Homo sapiens: one gene and its partners. The protein of the gene in region 2 binds, or shares a complex with, the protein of the main gene of each other region. Each region holds a gene or a part of one and is shown on either strand. Other genes may lie near its edges. The genes, in order: COA1, NDUFAF1, TMEM126B and ACAD9.

What was found.
Region 1: NDUFAF1 (region 2) and COA1 share a complex: the UniProt entries of both Homo sapiens proteins name them as parts of the mitochondrial complex.
Region 3: NDUFAF1 (region 2) and TMEM126B share a complex: the UniProt entries of both Homo sapiens proteins name them as parts of the mitochondrial complex.
Region 4: NDUFAF1 (region 2) and ACAD9 share a complex: the UniProt entries of both Homo sapiens proteins name them as parts of the mitochondrial complex.

What each region holds. Positions count from the first base shown.
Region 1 is NC_000007.14:43,726,509-43,734,166, forward strand, and holds the start of COA1 (cytochrome c oxidase assembly factor 1 homolog), read right to left. Parts: upstream 3,016-7,658; 5' UTR 2,921-3,015; exon of another isoform or gene 2,735-2,920; intron 1-2,734. UniProt on the Homo sapiens protein: Component of the MITRAC (mitochondrial translation regulation assembly intermediate of cytochrome c oxidase complex) complex, that regulates cytochrome c oxidase assembly.
Region 2 is NC_000015.10:41,392,477-41,399,498, forward strand, and holds part of NDUFAF1 (complex I intermediate-associated protein 30, mitochondrial precursor), read right to left. Parts: intron 4,665-7,022; 5' UTR 4,584-4,664; coding exon 4,011-4,583; intron 2,569-4,010; coding exon 2,383-2,568; intron 1,883-2,382; exon of another isoform or gene 1,629-1,882; intron 1-1,628. UniProt on the Homo sapiens protein: As part of the MCIA complex, involved in the assembly of the mitochondrial complex I.
Region 3 is NC_000011.10:85,623,930-85,631,592, reverse strand, and holds the start of TMEM126B (complex I assembly factor TMEM126B, mitochondrial), read right to left. Parts: upstream 3,001-7,663; 5' UTR 2,986-3,000; coding exon 2,905-2,985; intron 2,462-2,904; exon of another isoform or gene 2,352-2,461; coding exon of another isoform or gene 2,331-2,351; intron 449-2,330; exon of another isoform or gene 277-448; intron 1-276. Other genes in the region: DLG2 (disks large homolog 2), read left to right, coding at 4,976-4,994. UniProt on the Homo sapiens protein: As part of the MCIA complex, involved in the assembly of the mitochondrial complex I. Participates in constructing the membrane arm of complex I.
Region 4 is NC_000003.12:128,896,598-128,903,619, forward strand, and holds part of ACAD9 (complex I assembly factor ACAD9, mitochondrial), read left to right. Parts: intron 1-1,034; coding exon 1,035-1,113; intron 1,114-2,689; coding exon 2,690-2,864; intron 2,865-4,678; coding exon 4,679-4,752; intron 4,753-5,955; coding exon 5,956-6,031; exon of another isoform or gene 6,032-6,035; intron 6,036-7,022. UniProt on the Homo sapiens protein: As part of the MCIA complex, primarily participates in the assembly of the mitochondrial complex I and therefore plays a role in oxidative phosphorylation.

The DNA of each region.
Region 1 (7,658 bases), on a different chromosome or scaffold from region 2:
ACACAAAGAACTCCTAAAAATCAATAAAGACAAAACTCCATACGGAATGGCAAATTATAAAGTTTTTCCTTGCTTCATTTTTCAAGTCTTAAAATGCTCCTCACGGGTTCTTTCACAGCATTTTTCCTGGGCCTGGCCTCCCACGTAGTTGTTGGAAAACCATCACTCTCTAAACCACAGCCACATACCCATAAGGAGGTCTCCAGGGCTACAAAAAATTAATCTCATGTGCTTTTCATTTAAAAGAACGGTAGCATAATCTAAAAGACTATCACATATCTGATAAATGACTTGTATCTAGAATATATAAAGAACTCTTGCAACTCAATTACAAAAAAGAACCTAATTTAAAAATGGGCAGAGGATCTGAGTACACATTTCTCCAAAGAAGATAAATAAATGGGCAATAAGCACTTGAAAAGATGCTCAACATCATTAGCCATCAGGGAAATACGATTTGAAACCATAATATTTTCAAAAAGTTAGGAGATTTTTAATGGTCGCAACACAAAGAAAAGATGAACGTTTCAGGTGGTGGACATACTAATTACCTGATTTGATCACTACACATTGTATACATTTATCAAAATATCACTCTGTAGTCCCTAAATATGTACAATTATTACATGTCAACGAAAAAGAATGAAAACACAATGACACACACTTCACACCCACTGGAATGGCTAGAATCAGAAAGACAGATAATGACAAGTGTTGGCAAGGAGTGAGAAATCAAAACCCTAATACACTACTGGTGCGAATGTTAAAAAGATGCACACTGATGCTTTGGAAAACAGTCTGACCATTTCTTAAAATGTTAAACAGAGCTACCATATGACCCAGCCATTTCACTCCTAGGCACATACGCAAGAGAAATGAAAACATGATGTCCACACAAAAACTTGTAGGTGAATGTTCACAGCAGCATTACACATAATGGCCAAAAGGTGGAAACAATCCAAACGTCCACTAACTAATGGAAAATAAATCGTGGTAATACCCATAAAAGATTAACCAGCAATAAAAAAAAGTACTGACACATGCTATTAAATACAACACAGATGAACATGAATGTTAAGTAAAAGAAGCCAGTTGAAAAAGACCACATGCTGTATGATTTCACTCACATGAATAATCCAGAATAGTCAAATATACAGTCAGTCAATTCATAGTTGCTTAGGGCTTAGAATGGGGAGTGGGGATGGGGAAGTCAGGTGAGCCTGCTGAATAAGTACAGGGTTTCCTTTTGGAGTGATGAAAATGTTCAATTGTTCCAATATGGCTCTCACAAACTGAATGCAGCATATTAAACATGAACAAAAGAATACAAGAATAACTTATTGGAGTCTGTCTGAAATAGAAAATTAAACCAACTAATGAAGGTGAAGAAGATTACAGCATATTTTATGATGATGGTTGTACAACTTTGTGAATGTACTAATGTACTAATTACTTTTAGGTTTTCTTTCTTTTTTTTTTTTTTTGAGATGGAGTCTAGCTCTCTCGCCCAGGCTGGAGTGCAGTGGCGCAATCTCGGCTCACTGCAAGCTCCACCTCCCGGGTTCACACCATCCTCCTGCCTCAGCCTCCCAAGTAGCTGGGACTACAGGCTCCCGCCACCACGCCCGGCTAATTTTTTGTATTTTTAGTGGAGACGGGGTTTCACCGTGTTAGCCAGGACGGTCTTGATCTCCTGACCTCGTGATCCACCCGCCTCGGCCTCCCAAAGTGCTGGGATTACAGGCGTGAGGCACCGCTACGTTTTAAATGGTGAACTCTACGGTAGGTGAACTATGTGTCAGGAAGCTGTTTTATTTTTTTAAAGGACTGAAGACTTTTGTTTTGTGTTTTGTTTTGTTTTCATTTTATCCCGTTTTTAAAACAGTGCCTAGCAATATTATGAATTCAATCGATTTTGGCTAAATGCTAGAACAAAAATTAAAACTTGAGTAAACCATATAAAACTTTGCCATATCTAAAGTTATTAAATTACCGTAGACTGGCATGGTGGGAGCATAATATGAGTGTACCTGCAGGTGTGTTTTCCATGAAAGTAGCAAAGACTGAAAAACTCAGCAGAATCAAGACCCTGTAGGCCCTTGAAGTTAGGCTAAGAAATGTGTATTATCCTGAAAGCAACGGGAAGGCCAGGAAGATTCTGAGGACAGAAATAACACAATCTGATATGCGTTTTAAACGTGCAGGTGTAAGCGGAGAGTTGCTACTTCTATCCAAACGTGAGCCACCTCAGAAATAAAGCAATAGCCCTCCGGGGAGAATGGGGAGGAATCAGGGGAAGACCGGAGAAACAGGTTATCAAATTATCAGAATCTCCATAGATTTTTTTAAATTACACAGCATCCACCCCCAAACACACATACAGACTGATAGGCACTGATATATACATAAATACATCCAATGTCCCCTACACAGAAAATCACTTTTGCAGTCAGCCCCTGTTGGGAGGGTTTTTCTGTTATTCAAGTGTGGTGGGGACAAAAAGTATTATAACCACTAAACCAGGTAATTCTTTCCTACAATAATTTGGGCAGCGTACTCCTCAGGGTGTTGAAATTTAGCACTACCAACAAAAGTGCCCAGTCCCAACTCTTCGAGAGGACCCTAACTCTTTACAGTGTGCTGTTGGGGATGGTCAGCAAAAACTGCAGGACAAGGTCAAGGTTAGCTCGACACAGCCTCCTAACTCCGAGCGGACGGAGCCACTGAAGGTTACCAGGTGCCAAAGAAGCTGCGCAGGGAGGCCGCGACCCGGCGCCGGCGCGAACCTCCGCGATGTGACCCGTGAGGGAACTCTCCAAGAAGCAGCGCACCCCGCGCGCAAAGGCGGCCCCCCGAATTGCAGGAACAAACGCTTCTTGCTGGGGGGAAGACGGAGACTCTTATACCGCGGGAGACTAACCTGTGAGCAACAGAAGCACCACGCTACAAAGAGCATGACGAGTTCTTCCAGGCTTGGGAAAGCACGGGTAAATGCCCGCGGTCCTGCGCGCCAGCGGGGAGCAGTAGAGACTTCCGGCGTCGGCTGCTCGCAGGGCTAGAGCGTCGAACCGGGACAACCGGAGGCTTCAGCTCACCTCGGATTGTAAATGCTAACACGGGTCCTCCGGCCGGCTGATCCAGAACTTAGGTCGCCGGGACGTGTGGCTTCTGCTTCTCAGACGCTCGGACTCGCGCCGGGAAGGGTTTCGCCTCCCCTGGTCCCCGCTTTTTTTTTTTTTTTCTGCGTCCGGTTATTGCAAATGCATTCAGTCCAGTAGCACTAGCCCAGGAAATATAAGCCACCGGCTCACGTTGCTCCTCACAGGTATGCGGCGCTTCCGCTGGCCTCCAAGGACACGAAGCCCCGGGCCGTCTGGCCCCCCACTCTAGCACTGAAATTCCTGCCGCCCCGTTCAGCTGACAAATTTGGCAGCACTAAATTTTATTTTATTCGACAAATTAAGTACCCAGTTAACACCAGGGAGTAACGGGGTAAGAAAATTTCAGAAGGCTGGTGGATAATAATAGCATTTACCTCATAAATTTGTTATGAGGATGTGAAGCACTTAGAGTAGTGTCTGGCAGTTTGTAGGCGCTCAGTAACTGTTAGCTGTTATTATTTTTATATTGATTATTCCATAGTCACCACTATTATCACCTTAATGTCAAGCTTGAAATCCAGTATCTTTCCTCTGCGAAGCCATCACTCCAAGACTAATTAACTTTAGACTGGGGCATTCTTCTTTAAACTCTTGCTCACACATCCCTATCAGAAAAAATATATATATATTTACATGTGTCATGTATGGCATTAATATATTATGCATGCTATAAAACTCACAAGACATCAAACTTTTGATGAGGTAAAAACAATTTTTAAACTTTTTTAAAAACTTCTAACAGAAGTTCTTTTCTTCCTCCACAACAATTAGGTTGCCAAACATACATTCTATCACTCTGGAATCCACTAGCTAAATGAGCACATTATCAAAGCAACCTACCGCTGAATTCTGACTTCCCAGAATGTTTCTTTTCCAAAGAATTAATAGAAACTAATCAGATTGTGAAGTGCTCGGCCATAAGGACTATTTAAATGGTTCTTAGAGAAAAAGAAGAAATAAAATAGGCATCCACTGAGTAATATTCATTGATGCAACATTGATTATTGACTTATTACATTTTCAAAGAGATTGAGGTTATAATACCTTACACCAAGCTTAATATTTCAAAGAATAAATCAACTAATAAAAAGCTTATGAGGTTTGGTATATGTGCATTTCATACAACGTTCATGAAAATGAACCCGAGATCAATTAGCTCCCGTTCTGTACCAGAAAGAGAAATATGTTTACTTTGTAAGTAATAAAACATTAAATAGGCTTTTCTGACCATTTGCTTGAAAACTCAGAACTTAACATTTCTATCACTGGACTTAAATCTGCTAAAGTTTTCGTCTAAATTTTACATTAAAAACAAAACTCTATAGTGAATAATGTTACCTATCCAATATTCATTTTCCTCTAACTCCTTTGTACCAAAATCCTTATTTTATTCAGATAGCTGCCCTGTTCCCAGAATCAAAATGATACTGATTAAACCAGTCATCACACAGAATTTTTTTGTCGTCTAAATTTTACATTAAAAACAAAACTCTATAGTGAATAATGTTACCTATCCAATATTCATTTTCCTCTAACTCCTTTGTACCAAAATCCTTATTTTATTCAGATAGCTGCCCTGTTCCCAGAATCAAAATGATACTGATTAAACCAGTCTTCACACAGAATTTTTTTGGAAATAGTTGCTAATCAAGGAACGAGTATATGACCCAGGTTGGCGCAATCTGACTGAAGGAAAGGACCTCTATTTCATGCTCAGGAGAAAGTTTCTGATATACTGTCCTCTTGACGTCGAAACATCTATCCCACACTGTCATTAGTAGCCATCTTGCCCATCACAAGGAATAAAACTGATGGACCAATGCTGAGGACAACTGAACAAGTTATAAAACAATGTCCTTGGTGACATCATTCCAAACCTGGAGCTCACCCTGTATCTGAATGCCTTGTAGGAATGTCTAATAAGTTTCCTTATTGTTTTTGTTTTCTGTTTTTCTGAGACTGAGTCTCACTCTGTCGCCCAGGCAGGAATGCAGTGGCATGATCTCAGCTCACTGCAACCTCTGCCTCCCGGGTTCAAGCAATTCTCCTGCTTCAGCCTCCCAAGTAGCTGTAACTACAGGCATGCACTGCCACGCCTGGCTAATTTTTGTATTTTTAGTAGAGAAGGGGTTTCACCATGTTGGCCAGGCTTCTCTTGAACTCCTGACCTCAGTGATCCACCCACCTTGGCCTCCCAGAGTGCTGGGATCCTTACTGTTTTCTGATAGAGATGCCATAAAGATTAAATGGGTTAAAATAGTGCTGGTCATATTGTAAGTATTTTAAGTGCTTAATAAATTTTAGTTATTATTAACTCACCTTAAGTCAGGGATTCTGTTTCTTATAGCCAAAATTACCCATCAAAATACACATTCTACCTCTCTTTTTCTATATATTTAAAGAAAGGGTCTGTTTTGATACTTTTAAACTAAGGAGCCAGGGAAGGGGTAGGAGGTGAAGAGAGGAGGGGCTGACTATAATGCTGTATGAGGGCTACTGTTAAGTGGTTAAATGGCTGCTTTGAGATTCACTCAAGAGCAGCAGGATCCTATAACTATCAAATCTGAATGAGGTTACTACACATCGTAGTTGTATGTATACATGAAAGTATCATTTCCTGCATATTAATATTGTGATCCACTGCCTTACTAAGTTGCTTTATTGTTTGGAGTTCATTCTGGTAGAATTTCTAAGATTGCAATCTTATCATTGAAATAGTTTTACCTACTTCTTTCCAAGTTTTATACCTCTACTTTCTCATATCTAATTGTTTTGGCTAGTATCTCCAGTAAAATATTTAATAATAATAATGACAGTAGACTTTTATGTCTTATTCCTATCTTTAATGAGATATCTTTAGAATTTTCCCATTAAGCATGATGCTGGTTTTAAGGACTGAAGTAGACATCTTTTATCATGTTAAGGAACTATCCACCTATTGAGAGAAAGAAGAAAATTTTGGCATAAGAGCTTTGAGAAAACAAAGCATTGAGCGTGCCATAATGTCCTGTCATAAAAATAAGTAAAAGTTAGACAGTATTTACCTCAAAGACACTGAGAAAATTAACATTAGCTAGGTTGGTATGAATGTCCTTTCTTGCTTATCTTACTACCAGCATGAAATTCAGTCCTGCCTAGTTTGTTTACAAGAAATTCACCTGTGATATCCTGATTTTTAACCCTGAAAAAGTTATTTATCTCTTACAATATGTCCTGTTTAATGTAAAGTTAATGCTTGCTCTACATGTTTTTTGTTTTTTGCTTTTGTGTTTGCTTTTACATGTACTCCAAGCACATGCTCTACATGTTTGTTATAGGAAATAATGTGCACCTCCTATAATTTTGTTATAGGAAATTGTAGCTGTTCAAATATGCTGATTGCAAAAAATAAAGGACATTTTATAATAATTGGGTTAGATCATCAAGAAGATATAACAGTCTTAAATTTGTATGAATCTGGCCAGGCGCAGTGGCTCACGCCTGTAATCCCAGCACTGTGGGAGGCTAAGGCAGGCGGATCACGAGGTCAGGAGTTCGAGACCAGTGTGACCAACATAGTGAAACCCCATCTCTACTAAAAATACAAAAATTGGCCAGGCGTCGTGGTGCGCATCTGTAATCCCATCTACTCAGGAGGCTGAGGCAGTAGAATCGCTTGAACCTGGGAGGCAGAGGTTGCAGTGAGCCGAGATCGTGCCACTGCACTCCAGCCTGGGCAACAGAGCGAGACTCCGTCTCAAAATAAAAAAAATTGTTTGGAACTAATAGCAGAGCTTCAATAAATGTGAAGCAAAGACTGACAGGACAATTCAAAAAATTGGAAATTGTAGGCTGGGTGCGGTGGTTCACACCTGTAGTCCCAGCACTTTGAGAGGCCAAGGTGGACGGATCGCGAGGTCAGGAGTTCAAGACCAGCCTGACCAACAGGGTGAAACCCTGTCTCTTCTAAAAATACAAAAATCGGCCTGGCATGATGGCGTGCACCTGTAATCCCAGCTACTCAGGAGGCTGAGGCAGGAGAATTGCTTGAACCCAGGAGGTAGAGGTTGCAGTGAGCCGAGATTGCAGCACTGCACTCCAGCCTGGGTGACAGAGTGAGACTCCATCTAAAAAAAAGAAGAAAAAAGAAAAGAAAAATTGAAAATTGTAGTGGAGATTTTAACATTCATCTCTCAGCAATTAATAGAAAAACTAGACCAAAAAATCAGTAAGTGCATAAAAAACTGGAGCAACACTATTAACCAACTTGACCTGTTTAATATTTATAGAACACTCCATAAATAGCTAAATGCACCTTTTAAGTGTGTAGAATATTTTTATGCCAGTTCATAAACATTGATAAACTTAAATACATTGAAATTGTATAAAGTTTTTTGTCTTACCATAATTATAAATTAGTAACAGATATCTGGAAAACACAAATATTTTGAAATTAAGTAACACACTTCTTTTGAAATTAAGTATACATTTTGACTCATGGGTCAAAGAAGTAATGGT
Region 2 (7,022 bases):
GTCAAGGGAGGGACCAGGTGAAGTTAACTGAACCATGGGTGTGGTTTCCCCCATACTGTTCTAGTGACAGTGAGTTCTCACAAGATCTGATGGTTTTATAAGGAGATTACCCCTTCATTCGGCTCTCATTCTCTTTCCTGCCACCATGTGAAGGAGGATGTGTTTACTTCCCCTTCTGCCATGATTTTATAAGTTACCTAAGGCCTCCCCAGCCCTGCAGAACTGTGAGTCAATTAAACCTCTTTCCTTTATTAATTACCTAGTCTCAGGTATTTCTTCATAGCAGCAGCACGAGAACAGACTAATACAGCTTACATGCTTAGGAGGTACATTTACATGCTTACAAGCATGTAAATGATGTCATCTGAACTATGCTTCAGAAAGATAACTCTGGCTGCTGTGGAGCCAGGATTTTAGTGGGGCAAGAAGACAAACAGGGAAATCAATAATGAAGCTGCTGCAATAATCCAAACACCTGGACCAGGGTGGGAGTAGAAGAGATGGCTAGAAATGGTCAGCTGCTGAGTGTATTTTGGAAGCAGAGGTGACAGGACTCGCTAATAGACTGGATGTGGGGCAAAGGAGAAGAATTCAGGATGACCCTCAAGTATATGACATGAGCAAAATGGGGACTTTCTTGTTGAGTTTTTTTTTTTTTTTTTTTTTGAGACGGAGTCTTGCTCTGTTGCCCAGGCTGGAGTGCAGTGGCACGGTCTCAGCTTACTGCAACCTCCACCTCCCAAGTTCAAGCAATCCTCCTGCCTCAGCCCCCCTAGTAGCTGGGATTACAGGCACACACCACCATGCCCGGCTAATTTTTTTTTTTTTTTTTTTTTTTTTGAGACGAAGTCTCCCGCCCAGCCTGGAGTGCAGTGGCACGATCTGCAAGCTCTGCCTCCCGGGTTCACGCCATTCTCCTGCCTCAGCCTCCTGAGTAGCTGGGACTACAGGCACCTGCCACCAAGCCCGGCTAATTTTTTTTGTATTTTTTTAGTAGAGACGGGGTTTCACTGTGTTAGCCAGAATGGTCTCCATCATCTCCTGACCTCGTGATCCACCCGCCTCAGCCTCCCAAAGTGCTGGGATTACAGGCGTAAGCCACCGCGGCCGGCCTTTTTTTTTTTGAGATGGAGTCTCACTCTGTCGCCAGGCTGGAGAGCAGTGGCCCATCTCGGCTCACTGCCACCTCTGCCTCCCAGGTTCAAGCGATTCTCCTGCCTCAGCCTTCTGAGTAGCTGGGACGACGCCACCACACCCAACTAATTTTTTTATTTTTAGTAGAGACAGAGTTTCACCATGTTGGCCAGGATGGTCTCGATCTCTTGACCTCGTGATCTGCCCACCTCGGCCTCCCAAAGTGCTGGGATTACAGGCATGAGCCACCGCGCCTGGCCTCTAATTCTTGTATTTTTAGTAGAGATGGGGTTTTGCCATGTTAGCCAGGCTGGTCTCAAACTCCTGATCTCAGGTGATTTACCCACCTTGGCCTCCCAAAGTGCTGGGATTACAGACATGAGCCACCACGCCTGGCCTAGGACACTACTTTTTTTTTTTTTTTTTTTTTTTTTTGAGACAAAGTTTGGCTCTTGTTGCCCAGGCTGGAGTGCAATGACACGATCTCGGCTCACCGAAACCTCCGCCTCCTGGGTTCAAGCAATTATCCTGCCTTAGCCTCCCGAGTAGCTGGGATTACAGGCATGCGCCACCACGCCCAGCTAATTTTGTATTTTTTTTAGTAGAGACAACAGGGTTTCTCCATGTTGGTCAGGCTGGTGTCGAACTCCCAACCTCAAGTGATCCGTCCGCCTTGGCCTCCCAAAGTGCTGGGATTACAGGTGTGAGCCACCACGCAGGCCTAGGACACCAACTTTAGCAGAGTTGCCTGGAAGACATGAAATGGCAGAAACTTCTAAAAAACAAACAAACCCCATCTATTTGGACACAGAGCAGAGATGTGCCTGTGACTTAGCATGGACCTGGCCACATCCATATCAAAAATATTCACTAGTTAGTATGTTAACATTTATATTAATGAAACAAAATTCATTTATGTCTCTTAACCTTTCTTCTACCCACCCACCCCCACCTTCCAAGAAAGATTAGTAACAAAAAAGAAACTACAATGTAACAATCATCTCCAAGACTTTTTTTTTTTTTTTTTTTTTTTTTTGAGACAGAGTCTCATCTCACTCTGTTGCCCAGGCTGGAGTACAATGGCACGATCAGAGACTAGGTTTCACCATGTTGGCCAACCTGGTCTCGAACTCCTGACCTCAGGTGATCCACCCACCTCGGCCTCCCAAATTGCTGGGATTATAGGCGTGAGCCACCTCACCCAGCCAAGACCTCATTTTTATAAACAATGAAGATTTATGCTGTTACCTTGACCTCCTGCCAGTAGGGTCCCCCGCGGGTGAACATGAAGTAACTATACATCTGATTCGTCCTCTGGAAGAAATCTGTGTCCTCCTTGATATTCACCATCCAAGGCCGACCATCCCCACGTACACGGAGATACAGAGTATTGAACTGGGACCAATCGTAAGACATCTTCCTCTCAAAAGCACCCTAAGATATTGAAAGTAAAGTTCATTGTACCTCATTCTCCATTATTAGCAAAATGTGAGTCATCACCAAGTCAGCATCATCAACAGGATGCACTAACCATTTTTCTGACTTTCTGCCCCATAAGAAGGCACATAAACCCAGTGATTATTATTTTAGCACAAAATACTGACATAGTTATATGTTTCTAAGGTAATGTTCAACACACAACTGGCCCAGGACAGTGTTTACATGGGGTAGGCACTCACCTGTGTTCAATGAATGGAAATGAATGTATTTCCTTTACCTGGTCGTATGGAGCAATGACTTTTTCTTTTCTTTTCTTTTCTTTTCTTTTTTTTTTTTTGAGACGGAGTCTTGCTCTGTCACCCAGGCTGGAGTGCAGTGGTGCAATCTCAGCTCACTGCAAGCTCTGCCTCCTGGGTTCACACCATTCTCCTGCCTCAGCCTCCCGAATAGCTGGTACTATAGGCGCCCAAAACCACACCCGGCTAATTTTTTTGTATTTTTAGTAGAGACGGGGTTTCACCGTGTTAGCCAGGATGGTCTCGATCTCCTGACCTGGTGATCCGCCCACCTTGGCCACCCAAAGTGTGGGGATTACAGGCATGAGCCACTGCGCCCGGCCTTTTTTTTTTTTTTTTTTTTTTGAGACAAAGTTTCGCTCTTGTTGCCCAGACTGGAGTGCAATGGCACGATCTCAGCTCACTGCAACCTCTGCCTCCAGAGTTCAAGCAATTCTCCTGCCTCAGCCTCCCAAGTACCTGGAATTACAGGCATGCACCACCATGTCCAGCACTCTGGGAGGCCAAGGGTGGGGTGGATCACCTGAGGTCAGGAGTTCAAGACCAGCCTGGCCAACATGGTGAAACCCTGTCTCTACTAAAAATACAAAAATTAGCTGGGCGTGGTGGTGTGCACCAGTAGTCCCAGCTACTCAGGAGGCTGAGGCAGGAGAATCGCTTGAACCTGGAGGGCGGAAGTTGCAGTGAGCCGAGATCACGCCACTGCACTCTAGCCTGGGCGACAGAGCAAGACTCCGTTTCAAAAAAAAAAAAAGAAAGCCACAGGCTAACCCTACATCCACTCTACAAAACCCCTGGTCATTACAGAGGTTGTGGTCTTTTTTAGAGGAGATGAAAATCTCTCCAAAAATCTTTCAAATGTCTAACCTCTCAGGATTCCTGAAACATAACAATGCTCGTTCCTGGCCCAAAGCAATGCGCAGAAACAAGTTAACTCCTCCTCCTCAGAAACCACTTCCCCCTTGTGCTTCCACTTCACACTTGTGCCAATAGTTACTTATCCCCAGACACAGGTGAGGTGCCAAATATAACATGCCAGGTGTTTTCATTTACAGAAACAAAAGCTATCTTCTATAGTTTATGCTACAATGAAGTTCACCCCTGTTTACTAGAAAACGATGGCTCCTGGGCCTCACCTACCCTTGGAATCCTGGATATCATTGCACAGTACCCACTTCGGGTAGACTCCCCGTCCTGAGGCGCCTCAGAGCTCAGAGTTCCATATAGCAGTGCACTTTGGTTATTCTTGCCCATTTTCAAAAACACTTCACTTCTGCCTCCAATCGTCTTATCAGAAGTCACTGTCCACTTATCCAAATCTTCTTTCCCCCGGAATTGCCAGACAACCTTGGCTTGTTCCAGCAAGACCTCATGCAGAGGGTGGCCTTCCGGTCCTCTCCAATGATCCACAATTTCATCCTTCAAAAGCCTAAAATGGTATATTGCTTCATCTCTAATTGCTTTATCGAAACTAACATCAGGCTTCTCCTCAGAAGAAGTTATATCCAAAGCAACTTCTTTCTGGTGATCTCCTTGCAAATCCCCTTCAGTCTTCCTCTGTGAGGAGGCTTTGCCAGGAGAAGCCACTGGTTTCTGAAGACTACTGGAATACTCTGCAAAGCGAATACCCAAAAATGGATACAAGGCAGAAGTTGGCTTAGAGAATTTTCTGAGAAAATAAGTACCACGCAGCAATTTGTGAACCAAAGCCATGGTACAAAAAAATCAAAATGTAAGTTTCTTCCTGGGCTAGCAAGGGCCACCAAGAAGCTTCAGCAAATAGCCCAATTCTACCTATAACAGAAGAGACATTGAAGAATTATCAGCATAGCAATGAATGCATCACAATTTCAAATTCAACAGAAATCAGGTATTTTGAAGTTTGTTAACTTATTTGTTTACTATTATTATTATTATTATTTGAGACAAGGTCTTGCTCTGTGGCCCAGGCTGGGTACAGTGGCACAATCACAGCTCACTGTAGCCTCTACTTTCTGGGCTCAAATGATCCTCCCATCTCAGCCACCCAAGTAGCTGGGATTACAAGCACACACCACCATGCCCAGCTAATTTTTAAATTTTTTGTAGAAATGGATCTCCCTGGCCAGGCACGGTCCCAGCACTTTGGGAGGCTGAGGTGGGTGGATCACGAGGTCAAGAGATAGAGACTGGGCCGGGCGCGGTGGCTGACGCCTGTAATCCCAGCACTTGGGGAGGCCGAGGCGGGTGGATCACGAGGTCAGGAAATCGAGACCATCCTGGCTAACACGGTGAAACCCCGTCTCTACTAAAAATACAAAAAATTAGCCGGGTGTGGTGGCGGGCGCCTGTAGTCCCAGCTACTGGGGAGGCTGAAGCAGGAGAATAGCGTCAACCCAGGAGGCAGAGCTTGCAGTGAGCGGAGATCCCGCCACTACACTCCAGCCTGGGCGACAGAGCGAGACTCTGTCTCGGGAAAAAAAAAAAAAAAAAAATTGAGACCATCCTGGCCAACATGGTGAAACCCCGTCTCTACTAAAAATACAAAACTTAGCTGGGTGTGGTGGTGCGCACTTGTGGTCCCAGCTACTAAGGAGGCTGAGGCAAAAGAATTCCTTGAACCTGGGAGGAGGAGGCTGCAGTGAGCCAAGATCGTGCCACTGCACTCCAGCCTGGCAACAGAGCGAGACTCTGTCTCAAAAAAAAAAAAAAAAAAAAACAGAAAGAAAGAAAAAGAAATAGATCTCCCTGTGTTGCCCATGATGGTTTTGAACTCCTAGGATCCAGTGATTCTCCCCTCGGCTTCCCAAAGTGCTGGGCTGTAGGAATGATGCACTGTCCCCGGCCTTTTTTTTTTCTTTTCTTTTTATAAGAGACTGGGTCAGGCCAGGTGTGGTAGCTCACGCCTGTAATCTCAACACTTTGGGAGGCCGAGGCGGATGGATCACCTGAGGTAAGGAGTTCGAGACCAGCCTTGACAACATGGTGAAACCCCATCTCTACTAAAAATAATCCAGGCGTGGTGGCAGACGCCTGTAATCCCAGCTACTAGGGAGCCTTAAGCAGGAGAATCACTTGAACCCAGGAGGCAGGGATTGCAGTGAGCCGAGATCACGCCACTGCACTCCAGCCTGGACAAGAGCAAAATTCCATGTGAAAAAAAAAAAAAAAGAGACAGGGTCTCTTGCTCTGTCACCCAGGCTGCAGCGCCGTGGCAAGATCGATAACTCATTGTAGCCTTGAACTCCTGGGCCCTGGACTGAAATGATTCTCCCACCTCAGCCTCCAAGGTAGCTGAGACTACAGGTGCACACCACCATGCCCAGCTAATTTTTTTAAAAAATGTTGGCCGGGTGCCGTGCATCACACCTGTAATCCCAGCACTTTGGGAGTCCAAGGTGGACGGATCACTTGAGGTCAGGAGTTCAAGACCAGCCTGGCCAAAATGGTAAAACCCCATCTCTACTAAAAATACAGAAATTAGTTGGTCATGTTGGAGAGCGCCTGTAATCCCAGCTACTGGGGAGGCTGAGGCAGGAGAATCACTTGAACCCAGGAGGCGGAGGTTGCAAGTGAGCCGAGATTGCACCACTGCACTCCAGCCTGGGTGACAAAAGTGAAATTCCATCTCAAAAAAAATAAAAAAACCAAAAATTGTAGCCCGCCACAGTGGCTCACACCTGTAATCCCAGCACTCTGGGAGTCTTAGGCAGGCAAATGACTTGTCGTCAGGAGTTGGAGACCAGCCTGCCCAACATGGTAAAACCCCGTCTCCATTAAAAATACAAAAATTGGCCTGGCACGGTGGCTCATGCCTGTAATCCCAACACTTCGGGAGGCCAGGGCAGGCGGATCACCTAGGACAGGAGTTCAAGACCAGCCTAACCAACATGGTGAAACCCCTACAGAAAATACAAACAATTAGCCAGGTGTGGTGGCCCATGCCTGTAATCCCAGCTACTTGGGAGGCCTAGGCATAAGAATCGCTTGAACCCAGGAGGCAGACGTTGCAGTGAGCCGAGATCGTGCCATTGCACTCCAGCCTGGGCGACAGAGTGACTCCAACTAAAAAAAAAAAAAAATTAGCTGGGCATGGTGGTGGGCACCTGTAATCCCAGCTACTCGGGAGGCTGAGGCAGGAGAATCGCTTGAACCTGGGAGGCAGAGGCTGCA
Region 3 (7,663 bases), on a different chromosome or scaffold from region 2:
CAGTTTAGTAGTGTGCCAGGTACTGTGTCGTCTGCTTTCACATACTTTGTTAGTAATTCAATCAACATTTACTGAGCTCTTATTATCTGTTAGACATTGGCTTTTTGTTATTATTTTTTATTTTCTTGCTAAACATCCTACAATACAGACATTGGCTTTCTGATTTACACACTAACTTGAGAAATTGGTAGTATAATGATTATTTCTATACATATGAGCAAACTGAAGGTCTGAAAGGTTGGCTTGCTTGAGATTTAGTGTAGAAGGCTAACATACTGATACTGTTGCTGTTTTCCTCTCTCCTCATTCCGAGAAGGCAGTCAGGCTCTTTGTAGTTGTCCTCCTAGCTCTTCAGGTGGGGAGGTGGAAACAGTGGCTGCTTATTGACATCTCTATCCTCAGTTTCTCATGAAAGATTAAGTTCATTTTGGAAATCGTGTTTCATTTCCTAGAGAGGTAGGAGAGAGCAGGGATTGCCTTGGAGAATAGTGAGAGAGAAAAATCAGAAAGAGGGACACTGCTCCAGGAAGGGAACAGGCAGTGGATTGTGGCTACTACTTTGGAGTACATAAATTATATATCCAGTTCCCTATTACCACCTGTGGTGGAAGCAGAGCCTTTGCTAGAAATGGTCATGTGGTATAGCAGAGACCCATACCTGCCACCACACCCGGCTAATTTTTGTATTTTTAGTAGAGGCAGGATTGCACTATGATAGCCAGGCTGGTCTCGAACTCCTGACCTCAGGTGATCCACCTGCCTCAGCCTCCCAAAGTGCTGGGATTAAAGGCGTGAGCCACCGTGCCCGGCCCCAGAGACCCATGGCACTGGGCTCCTTGGTCGGAAGGTTCTTGTGTCCCAAGTGTGATGAACAGACAGCTGCCAATGTCAAGGGACCATGAAGACCTGGCCAGTAGCATCTTAACAGAAACTAGACAGGTTAAAAAACAAAACAAAACAACAACAACAAAAAAACAAACCCTGCACTCTCAGAGAGGATCGTTTCTGAATGTTTTGCTCTGGGCAAGACTCTAGAGTCTCTGTGAAAAGTCTTAATAACATTTGTTAAATCCAAACACGTGGTTGCAAATGTTTACCTACTACAGCAGCCAAGTGGAAGGTCTATTGCTGCTAAATTCAGTGCTTTTTACTCTTTTTCCTCCAGATTAGCTAAATAGTCTCTTTACAAATTTACACTAATCTCAATTTTAATGTTTATATTAAAGGGAAATACTAAATCTCAAATTTAAGGAGTCCTAGACAAGAGGATTAGAGGGGATAAAGCATAATGAACACACAAGATACTTAATAAATCAGTGGTTCTCAACCTTCAGCATGCACAAGAATCACATGGGGTATTTATTTGAAATGCAGTCTCATGAATTCCCTCCTGAGATACCTGGATTCAGCAGGAGTAGGATGAGGCCTAGAATCTGCATTTTAATAGCACTTAGTGCTTCTGATGCTGTAGTCAATGGACACATGTTGAATATCACTGTAATACTCATTTGCTGAATGAGCGGTATGTACCAATCCTAACTATAGAAGGCCAGTTCATTATACACAGTTCCTGGCATCAACATACAGAAGGTATGAGCTCCTTTGAACCTTCTTATGGTGTTACACAATGAGTAATAATGGACCAGTTTCTTTCTCTGCATCATGGCAGAAATGTACTCAATCTTTTTCTGTAACATTTCTGGAGAGGGCAGGGGGAAAAAAAGGTAAAATATTTTACAAATTACAATTTTTCAGTGACTAGACTTACATCTTTTCCCTCTCCCTGACACCCAAATGGAAAGTATAAGGGATAGTAACATCTAAGGGAGATTCTATACCTAACCCATCTATTGTACTAAGACATCTGCTGTCTTGGCAGACGTCAATAACATGAGTAACCATAAACCATAGATAAATTTTTGTTTTGCTCTCATCCAATTCATTGAAATCCTCCACCTTCCACCAAAAACAAAAAACAAAACAAACTTCCAGGCAATATCTTCTACTAATCTCCTACCTAGTCTACACCCTAAAGTCTCTATAGGGAAAACAGACACCCAGGATTATGATTACAGGACAGCAAATACTGAAATACTGGAAAGAACACAGGAAATATTTGAGTGCTTAAGCTTTGCAAGGCACTGTCAAAGACTCCAGTGCTTTCATTACACCCCTTCCCCCTTAAGGCCACTCAACTAGTCACCACGCTTATACCAGTAAGAGTGCATTTATGTAGGTTTATAGTTTGCAAATCATCTAACGGTTTTGTAGTGCTTTCATGTGTATTATTTTACCTAATAATAAATTTTTCACCTAATAATAAATTTCACCTTTAGAATTTTATTCAACATTCGCTCATAATTTAGGGAGCACGTGGTATATGCCAGACCTCCGGGTAATCAAGATACAGTCATCCCATCCTCAGGAATCCACAACGCAGTGGGAGTTCAGAACAAAAAAGCTGGCAATTTAAACACAGAATGAGAGAGTGACATAAACGAAAAACCCAACAACCTAAGAAAAAGCAAACAATCTAGCCAGAGGAAGCGTGGGAAGGCTTCCCGGAAGAAGTGACATTTAAATCAATAACCGAAAGAGAACAGTTTGGCAGGGGAGTTGGGACGGATAGAAGCAGGGAAATACTCCAAGTTGAAGAAAAAGCCTGTGCAAAGGCCTGGAGACAAGAGAAAACAAACTGCAGATAATGAGGACTAGAATTTAGGTCATCTACGTTCTCTCCGCCTCTTTCCACAGCAACTGGAGACTTAATCGACTGCTCCTTGCATGGACTTGGGAGCTGTTTTAACTTTTCAAATCTCCTTTAAAGGTATCATCTTAGAAGAGTCTGCCAACACTTTGAAGGTGCAGAAATCACCCCCCATACCACTTCGGATTTCCGCCTACCTTGGGCGCTTCCTCAGTTCCCACCGGCACCACACCTGAATCCCTTGGCTTAGTCCCAGCCTCATACCCGAACACCACCATTTTGGTGGCTCATGTGACTTGCCGGTGGGCGGGGACCCAGAACGCCCTGGGCGGGAAGTGGTGCTGATTTACGGCTCAACGCCTCTCGATTGCAGCCCGGGCCCGCCCCCACTCAGTCAAAAGCCGCGCCCTCCATCCTGACTGTGATTGGGCGCGGCGTCTAGAAATTACGGCCACTTATTCGCTTAGAGGAGGTCCAGGCGCCTGTGGGCCTGCCCCCCTCGCCAGCCGAGTATTTCCTTCCCTGACTATTTATCAGCTTAGCTCCCTGATCTCTTCGCGTCCTGCGGGAAAGATGGGGCGGCCCGAATGTTGTAATGTTACTGCGCTCCTGCCTCTCCTCAGGGCAGCTGGGAACTAGCTGCCTGCCCCTTTCAGTCCTTGAGGGAACTCGCCCCTTTGCCCTGGCCTGTGTGGTGTTAAAGCTCTGTTTCTCGGGCACCTCCTCCTCCAAACCCCGGACCAGCCGCCCAGCGCCGTCAGAGCAGCCCCGACTAGCCTCCTCTCCTCTCAGCCGTCTGACTCCTCTCCCCAGTCTGTAGTCCCCTCAATTTGCATCCTTTAGCCCCGCTTGGAAAGAGACCGGAGAGAAATTTGCCCACTACCCCCGCGAGAAGACCCACTTGTCAGCCGTGTCTCGGGGTGGGGGGCACTGCAAGGCCTGGCGCTGTTTTGTGCACGTTAAATGCCCAGCAGTATCTCCCAGACCGGCAACCCCCGACCCTCCAGTCTCCATGTCTTACAGAAGCCAAATTCGAGAGTTATATAATTTCTAGTGCTGCTGTTGCTCCTGCCTGAGGAAACACTTCATCGCGTGGAGGGTGCAGGACATTTCAGTGCTCTTCCCTAAAAGAACGGGGCTTGGGCAGGGGTGGCCAGCGGTGGCAAAGAAATGTCTTGTCTTTTCTGCAAAAGGAAGGTGGGTAGTTTGAAGAGAGATTGAGAGAAAAGGTGGATGTGAAAGCCAAGCAGCTGCACTTTCTCATTTAGGAAATCGCGGACCGTTTACATAGCTTATGCTTACATGTCTAATACTACTACGGCGTCTCTGAAAACACCTTTGGGGGAAGGTTTGGCTTCTCTCGAAGTCTCAGTGTTTTTCCTCGCCGGATAGGGAGCTGCTTGAATGCGAAGAGATGGCATGATGTGAATGACTCCAGTGTGAAGAAATCTGCTTCGCCAACTCATCCTGCATCAAGTGCCCATTGAGTAGCACTGTCACTTTAATGTCTCCATGCCAAGGGATTGCTTTCCTTTTTTTTCAATCCTCTCGGTTAATACATGGGAGGATCAGAATCAGAGGGGCATTAAGGATCAAGCCTGGGGGCTTGGAGAGCACAGAAGAAAAAAATGAAAGGGACAGCAAGCTGGATTCTGAGTTACTGAGGGGGTGAGATCCGGAACTTCTGATCAGTAAATATAAGGGGGCCTTTCAATGTGTGTTCTGCCACAGAAAACTGTTCAAACTCACCTATCTTTTTAGAGACTGGAGTCAAAGAGATTTTTAAAAGTATTTTTGGGGAGGTGGGGTTACATTTTTCTCTACAGATTTGAGTATCTTTATCATCATCTTTGAATTTGACCATGTATAAAGTAATGAGACCTGTCTAAATTTGGTTTGTGCCTTAATTGAGTTAGTCATTGAACTTCCAAAAATGTTGCTGCCTGAAGAGGAATTTCAGTAACGTTCTTCATGTTTACAATAATTTTCCCAGTTTGTAAAAACAGTCTAAATATTTTCTGAAAATTGAAAAACTTGAAAAACTAAAAAATTACGTTGCTGTAAACTCTGTGGGCGGTGTAAAAAGTTTAGTTGTGGAAAAAATACATCATTATTTTCTTTGTCTGACATAGAAGACTCAGCCTGGATTTCAAAACTGAACACTGAAGTGGTTTGCAACAGTTACCTGGCTCTTGGCCTCAATCCAGCTGGATCAAACTGAGACCTGAAAAGAGATATTGACTCCTGTGGCAGTGGAAAGACCCAAGAATGCCAGTCAAGAAGACAGGTGGGCCATAAGGTTGCTATATAATATTTCTCCCTTTTGTTGGTTCTGGTACTTGTAATTTAAATTATATTCCATTTGAGAGTAAAGTTTTGCTTCAGTTTGGGGGAAATATTTATTGTAATATAGTTTCAGTGGTACATAATTCAGTAATATTATTTTACTAAAGTAAAAGGAAGCAAGACTATAGTATTTATTGATAGATATTTATGATTTCATAAATCAGGTTGTTTATATCACCGTTGGTAATAAGAATAGATTCAGTACCGCAGATTTGGAGTCTCCTTTAGCTTGTTTTCTTAGCTTGTTGAAGGTTACTTTTAAGCAGTCTTTAAAAAAGAAACTTGTGCAGTGGAGCTCTTCCTCATGGGTTTAATATTTATCAAACTAATTACAGAATTGTGAAAGGTAGCAAAGTAATTTCATTTGCACTGAACAAAATTACAGCTTTATAATTTATCTTTTGGTTAAAAAATAGACTTATTATTTGGATTTATTCTAGTGTAAATCTTCACTTTTGTGATAAAGCACAACTTTCGTGACTATTGTGCTTTTCCAGATATATGCATTATCCAATAACATGATTGTCAAGTTCCCCAAATGGGGCAAACACCTGTTTTTTTCCTCCCTCCTCAACAACTTTTATTATTGGAATTGATCAAGATCTAGTGAATTCCTGAAGCATAGTTGATTATATTCTGAACTTGGGGATTCAGTTTAGCTTAGATGCACCCCAGGTTAACTTTGTTCCAAAGGATCCTAGTTTGGGACTGTTTTTGTTTTGTTTTGTTTTGACATTATATGGAAGGTGAGATCAACTGTAAAGAGTTTCTCAAGAGTTTTGAATCAAAACTTATATGAACAGCCTTGAACTCTGCTATACTGGACTAATATAGATCCAAATGTTGTCCAGTTATGTGAGTTGCTACAATCTGAAACTAAAGCTCTGGGTGAATTGCAGGTTAAAGTGGAACTTATCTCTGCATGGTGTTTAATTCTTCTACCTGTGGATTTGTTAGGGATGTTGAGGAAACTTATAATCACTGAGATGCCTTATCCAAGCTGATATTTGTAGAGATGGACAATGATATATAAAACTTTTGGAACACCTAGAACTGTGATATTTGCACACTGGGATTTAAGATTGGGATTGTTTCCTCCCCCTGCTGTTTCTAATAATACCACTGACAGAAGTAAACTGCCTGAGATTTTGGAGCCACACTTGTCCAGACCAGACACAATTGGTTTATCTAGAACAAGAATGGTTTTGGGAATGTAGCCAATAAATGATATGGCTCTTTGACATATTTAAGTTGATGTGTGTTTTTATTCTTTCTACCATTTCTCTAGAGAGTTTCTTTTGGATTACCTTATTTTGAACTAATAATGGAATTAAACACATTACGTGTGTGTGTGAGAGAGAGAGAGACAGAGAGGAAAAGAGTGAAAGGAAGAGAGAATGGGAAGGAGGAGAGACAGAGAAAGAGATAAAAAGGTATGTGGGAAGGAAGAGGAGGAAGGTCAATTGATATTCTAGGTATAACTTAACTAAGCAGGTTTAGTTAGAAAGTTTAGAACTTAATGTTTCTAAACCCCATAAACCGAGTTTCTTAAAAGTTCTTCCCTTTAAAGAACTGTTACAGAAATTGCTGATACATTGGTGAAATTATAATACTTTAGAAGAATTTCCTTTCTTTCCTTCTTCCTCTCTTCCTTTGCCTCCCTCCTTCCCTTTCTTCTTTCCTTCTTCAATAATGAATTGACTAATGGATTGAATTTTTAAAGGAATCAACAAGTTCTTATTAGAAAAACCAGTTTATATTTCTATGATACCAGAGTATATGTTGTATATTTTCCTTATAAACTGATCTAGAGAAACAATGTATCTTGCTTTTAATCTCTTAAAACTGCTAGTATTATGATACATATTCTTGAATATTATAGACAACTAGCCAAACAAGTTATGTGTATATTGTATTTTTCATTGGCTATGCTTACTATCTCTACTGTTTATATAATATAAGAACAGTATTTTTAAGTTTAACCTAGATTTATTCTGCAGGGATCACTGTCCTCTGTCACCTTGAGTCTTTTTCTCTCTTCATTGTTTCATGTGGTAGACATGACGAAAAAGCTAGACTTAATGTGATTCTAAACAATAACTATCCTCACTGAGCCAAGTGTTTATTCATTGTTGAACATATTCTCATTAAAGTATGAAATTTTCATAAGATGGATTTTCATTTGGTATTTAGTTAGTATATTTTTGTCAAAGAGAGAGGAGATTCTTTTACTGATACCATGCAACCATGGTGGGAATTGGGAATGGGTGTGACATCTCACTAAGCCCATTTCTAGGTGCCATTCTGGACTGCCCTTGGATAAGCTGAAACTACTGTGCCTCAAACCCCATATTAACTGCTCGTTTGCTTTATGACATTACTTTCTACTTCTCTCACTCTAGTCTCTTCGCATTTTTACAGATCTCAGTTTTATCAACAGAAGACTCTTCTGTTTCCTCATAGAAGGTTTTTTTTCCTCAGCAGTTGCTTTTCATTCAAGATTTTCTTATCTATAGTAGTAACTTTATTTGCTCCCAGGTGAGCCCTTGGGACAATCTTGGACATATTTTAATTTGTGAAAATTTAGGACCAATTCAGGATAAGTTGTAT
Region 4 (7,022 bases), on a different chromosome or scaffold from region 2:
GCAAGGGGCTGTTGGTTTTGTTGAGTAGCTGACTTTTCCTTCTTTCCAAAATCTTGCAAAGAATCAACTCAGCAACTGTTCTTGCCATTCCTCTTATCTTGACCTTATTTCTCTGTCCCAGTGAGACTTGCAAGTGAGATACCACGCTTGACAGCACTTATTAAATAAATTTTTGTGGTTTACAACACACCTTGACATACAATATAGTAATAACGTTCCGGCTTCAAAGCACCTTTCAGAATATATAGCGTGGGTGGTACTGCTCCCACTTACACATTAGGAGCTGAGGTTCAGTGAGGCTGTGTGATCTGCTGGATGGAGCAGGGCTGCGGCAGCACTCGGGACTCTGATGATAAGTCCATCACCTGGACCATCCTCCATCCTGCTTCACTTTGCATGAGAACCTGGGAACAGTCATCCTTCCTGGGGTGCCCAGAACTCATCCTCACAGGACCTCAGATGAGCCCATTGCAAGCACCCATTTCCATGTTTAAACCTAAGCCCAAGTTGTTTTCACTGCCGCTTTTTTACGTGATGTATTGAAGCAGAGGTCGGCTAAATCCAGCCTCCTGCCTGTTTTTTATAAATAAGTTTTGTTTGTTTGTTTTTGAGACAGGGTCTTGCTGCGTCACCCAGGCTGGAGTGCAGTGGCTCAATCTCATCTCACTGCAACCTCCGCCTTCAAGCGATTCTTCTGCCTCAGCCTCCCGAGTAGCTGGGACTACAGGCATGCCCCACCACACCCAGCTAATTTTTGTATTTTTAGTAGAGACGGGGTTTCACCATGTTGGCCAGATCTCAATCTCTTGACCTCGTGAACCACCTGCCTCAGCCTCATGTTCTATTAATAGCAGCAGAGTTGAGGAGGTGAGACAGACATCCTGCAGCTTGGAAAGCTGAATATGTTATCTGACCCTTCATTTTAAAAGTTTGCTGACCTCTTACAAGTACTAAAACCTCCATTTTCAGGCCCTCAAAAGCATTCATATTTATTCCCAGTATTCTCCCTTGACCACATCTTTCTGCATCTGCAGTGGGAGCGATGCAGCCTCAATCCGGAGCAGAGCCACACTAAGTGAAGACAAGAAGCACTACATCCTCAATGGCTCCAAGGTAGGGTTCCTTCCCCATGGCCACATTAGGGTCTCAGTCACAACCTTCACTGCCACTGAGTGAGCACTCTCCACACACCAGGGATTGTACCTGCTGCTGTAGCACCGACTACCTTCTTGAGCTGCTTTTATGTGTTTGTTTTTAATTTTTTTTAGTTTTTTTTATTTGCGATGGAGTCTCTGTCACCCAGGCTGGAGTGCAGTGGTGTAATCTCAGCTCACTGAAACTTCTGCCTCCCAGGTTTCCAATGATTCTCCTGCCTTAGCCTCCTGGGTAGCTGGGATTAGAGGTGCGTGTCACCACTCCTGGCTAATTTTTGTATTTTCAGTAGAGATGGAGTTTCACCATGTTGTCCAGTCAGGTCTTGAACTCCTGACCTCAAGTGATCTGCCCACCTCGGCCTCCCAAAGTGCTGAGTTTACAGGCAATGAGCCACTGTGCCCGGCTTGTAAACCCAAAAAATCTTTAAATTTTTTGTTACACAAAGTTTCAGACATATTCTGTGTGCCTGGCTGGCCCTAACTCCGGCAGTCACCTGCTTATGGCCACTGTGCCTCTTCCAGCAGCATCGCCACCTCCAGATCGCATGGTAACAATCTCAGCATGCCTCTCTAAAAGACAGGAGTTTTTTTTGTTTGTTTTTGTTTTTTAATAAACACAAAGCCGTAATACCCTTATCACATTTTAAAAATTGATAATTTCTCTTTTCTTTTGAGACAGGGTCCCGCTCTGTCACCCAGGCTGGAGTGCAGTGGCACGATCTTGGCTCACTGCAGCCTCAACTTCCTGGGCTCAGGTGATTCTCCTACCTCAACCTCCCAAGCAGCTGGGAGTACAGGCACACAGCTAACTCTTTGTATTTTTTTTTTGGTAGAGATGGGTTTTCACCGTGTTGCCCAGGTTGGTCTCAAACTCCGGGGCTCAAGTGGTCTGCCCACCTCGGCCTCCCAAAGTGCTGGGATTACAGGCGTGAGCCACTGTGCCCAGCTAATAATTTCTTACTTCTATCAGCATTCAAATATCCCTGATTGCCTCATACCTTTTTTTGGTTTAACTGTTTGCTTGAATTAAGATCCACACAAGTCCCATCTGTTGCTGTTTGTTAAGGAGTCTGTTTCTGCCTCTGTCTCCCTCTGTTTCCTTTCCTCCTCCTCACCACCCTCCCGCCTTTTTTCATTTCTTTGTAGAATTAACAAATAAATGTTGTGTGTATTTACATCTACAACATGATGTTTTTATATATGTATACCTTAAGAAATGATTAAACCCTTTCTTTCTTGAAGAAATGCAGTTGTCTGGCGGTGGAGCCTGAGCTGTCTGACAACTTTGGGTGTTCTTTCCCCCGCCCCCGCCTCCACCTGGCCATCCATGTCCCTTGGGAAAATCCTTGCTCTGGGGAAAGTGGGCTGAGCCCTGTCCTCTATTCACTCATGCTTGGTTGGCTTCTGCAGAGCCAAGGACCCTGCATGTCTGGCCTGAGGTCTGACTGGCAGCTGGAGCTTGATGGACAAAGACAGAGCTGAGGTGGGTCACATAGGGGTTTGGTTTTCTCCAAAGTCCATCTTTCTGTCCTCAGGTCTGGATTACTAATGGAGGACTGGCCAATATTTTTACTGTGTTTGCAAAGACTGAGGTCGTTGATTCTGATGGATCAGTGAAAGACAAAATCACAGCATTCATAGTAGAAAGAGACTTTGGTGGAGTCACTAATGGGAAACCCGAAGATAAATTAGGCATTCGGGGCTCCAACAGTAAGTAGCTCCTGTGCGCGCGTGCGCGTGTGTGTGTGTAAGGGGGAGACTGGCCTTTGACGGTGTGTGTGTGTGTGTGTGTGTGTGTGTGTGTGTGTGTGTAAGGGGGAGACTGGCCCTTGACTCTGTCCAAATAGCAAGATAAAATGAGATTTAAACACTTTCAGTTTTTGTTAAGCATTTTAAAAAGATCAAATTAAGAATGCCACTTGGGCTTTGTCTTTGTTCCTGCAGCTGAGTGCTGCTCACTTGAAGGCCTGCTGGTCATCCCCTGCTGTAGCTGCCCTAGCAGACACACCACCTTAGAGCTCAGCTTACAGTCCCCAGCCTTTAGTTGTCTCAGTCTGCAGTGCCTGGCAGCCTGCTTCAGGCTGTGAGTTGGGTTCAGGTCCATCTGGGTTCAGGTCCATCTGGAGGCTTGTTCTTAGAGCAGATCATAAGCACCTAAGGGGCCAAGCCAAGCCATATAAGTACTATTTTTGCCGTGGGAGACATAGTCTCCCTCTGTCACCCAGCCTGGAATGCAGTGCTGTGATCTCAGCTCACTGCAACCTCTGCCTCCTGGGTTCGAGTGATTCTCCTGTCTCAGCCTCCCAAGTAATTGGGACTACAGGCGTGCACCACCACACCTGGCTAATTTTTGTATTTTTTGTAGAGATGGGGTTTCAACATGTTGCCCAGACTTGTCTTGAACTCCTGAGCTCAGGCAGTCTACCTGCCTCAGCCTCCCAAAGTGCTAGGATTACACGTGTGAGTTACCATACCTGGCCACTTTTTTTTGGTTTGTTTTTTTTGAGACGGAGTCTCGCTCTGTCGCCCAGGCTGGAGTGCAGTGGCACTATCTTGGCTCACTGCAAGCTCCGCCTCCCGGGTTCACGCCATTCTCCTGCCTCAGCCTCCCGAATAGCTGGGACTACAGCTGCCTGCCACCACGTCCGGCTAATTTTTTCTATTTTTTAGTGGAGATGGGGTTTCACCATGTTAGCCAGGATGGCCTCGATCTCCTGACCTCGTGATCCGCTCACCTCGGCCTCCCAAAGTGCGTGAGCCACCGCACCCGGCCTTTTTTTTTTTTTTTTTAAATAGAGATGAGGTCTTGCTATGTTGTCCTGGCTGGTCTCGAACTCCTGGGTTCAAGTGATCTTCCTGCCTCTGCCTCCCAAAATGCTGGGATTATAGGCATGAGCCACCATACCCGACTGACCCTAAAACACATTTAAGGTCTCTGTTCATGTTGGGTCAGCTCTTTGTATTGGCCACAGGAAGTCACATGGTCATACCTAGCAGGCAGGGAAAGGGAGGGAGGTCCATCCCTCCTCACAGTGGGAGAGTGCTACAGTTAGATTGCAGGGGTGTGATTGTGTTAGAGTTAAGAATTGAGACCAGTGGTCCCAGTCTACCCTAAGGCTTCAGGAAATGCTGTTCTTTCCCTCACTTTGCTTGTTCTGGCTCTTTATATGCCTGGTTCTTTTCATTCTTAAACTTCTGCTAAATGTCACCTTAGAAAAGTCTGACATAGTCCTTAATAAAAATATTATTATCCACCCCCTTGCCAACCTCCATTTCTCTTTATCGTGATGCCCTATTTATTTCATCCATAGCACTGATCACAATATTACATTGTTTTGTTTATAGCTTTTGTCTCCCAAATCAAAGTATGAGCCTCCACAAAGATAGGAACTTTGTCTTTCTATACTGTCCTACCAAACATTGGATGGATGGATGGATGGATGGATGGATGAATTGCCTGCTTGCAGGTCAGATGCAGAGTGGTTTGCATTGTCAGATGATATCTTAAATTTCATGTGTTTCAGCTTGTGAAGTCCATTTTGAAAACACCAAGATACCTGTGGAAAACATCCTTGGAGAGGTCGGAGATGGGTTTAAGGTGAGTTGCCAGCCACAGCCCCTTGTACCAGGTAGTGTCATGAGTGCAGTTTGTCGCCCCCAGCTTTTGCCCTATCCCTGCTCGTAGCAGAGTAGCCTGTGCATGGCAGGTGACTTTGCATGGTTATCTGTTGGGAAATTGGCAAAATGGACACTGGAAAATTGGCTGGCTCCTAGAAGAAGTGTATGGTAAGGATTAGGAATTTCCCTTCACCTCTGAGGCCCTATTCGCCTCGAGCGGAGGCTAAGATTCCCTTCTGCAGTGGGTATGAGAAAGCAGCCTGTGGGCTCTGGTGAATCTCAAGCTCTGTGTACCACAACCCTGGTCTGCATCGCTGCCCTACTCTTTTCTTTTTGGACTAAGACTTATTTTTATCAAGAGATGATTCATATGACAAAGGACTCACCATTTTAAAATATTATTTCAGTGGTTTTTAGTATATTCACTATGTTGTTCAAATATCTCACACAGAACATTTCCTCACCCCAAAAAGAAATGTTGTACCATCCAGTATGACCCTTACCCCATCCCTTGGCTGCTACTCTTTTACTTTATGTCCCTATGGATTTGCCTGTTTGGAACATTTCATAAAAATGCAGTCATATACAAGATCCAGTCTTTGGTGACAGGCTTCTCTCACATTGCGTGATGTTTTCAAGGTTCATCTCTCTCATAGCATGAATGAGTAATTCATTCCTTTTATGGCTGAATTCTCTTCTGTTGAGTGGAGATACCACATTTTGTTCATCCATTCACCAGCTGATGGACATTGGGGTTGTTACCGCTTTTGGCTGCTATCAGTAATGCTACTTATGAACATTCATGTCAAGTTTTAATGTGGAAATAACGTTTTCAGGTATTTTGATTTATGCCTAAAAGTAGAATTTCTGTTTGGCCCAAGTTGGTCTTGAACTCCTGGGCTCAAGCGATCCTCTTGCCTTGGCCTTCCAAAATGCTGGTACTACAGGTGGGAGCCACCATGCCCAGCTCTGGCATGGTCCTTTGGAATAACGTTCAGTGGTCTTGTGTGTGGGGATGTTGGTAGAGCTGCAACAGTGACTGAACCACCTTGTTCTGAGGCATTAGGATGGTGCTTTCTCCCAGCTTGAGGGAAGGCAAGCTGATCCACCTGGCCTGGTTTCGTTGCGGCCTCCTCCCTCTGCCTCCTTCAGGGCCCCTGGGCTCTCCCTGTTCTCCCTGCAGGTGGCCATGAACATCCTCAACAGCGGCCGGTTCAGCATGGGCAGCGTCGTGGCTGGGCTGCTCAAGAGATTGATTGGTAGGTAAGTTAGGGACAAGGCCCTTTGTGCCCCACCCCCTGCTGCCCCGGCTCCAACCCTGGAGGCTCTGCCATTCCCCCGGCCCCTTCCAGGCCAGTGCTGAACCAGGCTACCAGCCTGAGCTCAGTCCCTGGGCTTTTGTGGAGACCAGAGGGTCTCCTCAGCCTGCCCCTGAGGTTTGTTGTCTTCCGCATTCCTCTGTTTCACCTCCACCCGGGTGATGCTGACTGGGGGACAGGCTTTCTGTCTGGGGTGGGGATGGGGATTGGGGAATGGGCTGTCTGTCTGGAGTGAGAGGTTGCCACTGACCAGTAGGAGCAGAGCTGCTTGGTGAGCACACACCAAGAACCAGGCTTCCAGGATACACGGCCTCTGGTTCCCAAGGTCCGTGCCTCCTGGGTGACTCTGCATGGTGGGTGGGGAGTAGGATCGGGTTTGGAACCCAGGTCCCTGGGCCCCTGGATCTTACCTTTGTTCTATTCTGTCAGAATACCCCAAACCTCCATTTTCCTTTGCCAGTGAACTTAGAACAGCCCTGTAACCATCCTGGTTGTGGTGGAAGCATTTGCGGGGAAATGGGGGTACCCGGGGCAGCACACCCCTAAGTGCTTTATGAAGCTCCTCTTTGGTGCCAGGCTCTGGGCCTGTTTTGGCTTCCCTCCATTTTAGAGATGAGAAGACAGAGACTCAGAGAGGGCAAGCGATTTGTTCCAGACTGTGCTCCTGGACCCAAAATGAAAGCTGTCAGGCTCCAGGCTCAGGGCTCTTCTTACTCAGGCACAAGGCCTCTGGGGAGCTCCTCTGCTGGGGCTCTGAGTGGGGCTCGGCCCTCTACACCTCCTGAGTGCACCACACCTGGGAGAGCCTGTGGAGGACATGGCTATGGCGGGGCGGGGGTGCTTCTGCCTGGGAGAGGCGCCATGTCACTCTTGGGCCCTTAGAGCTCAGCACTTTGTCACAGCCACACGCCTGGAAGCCCCAGCCTGAGTA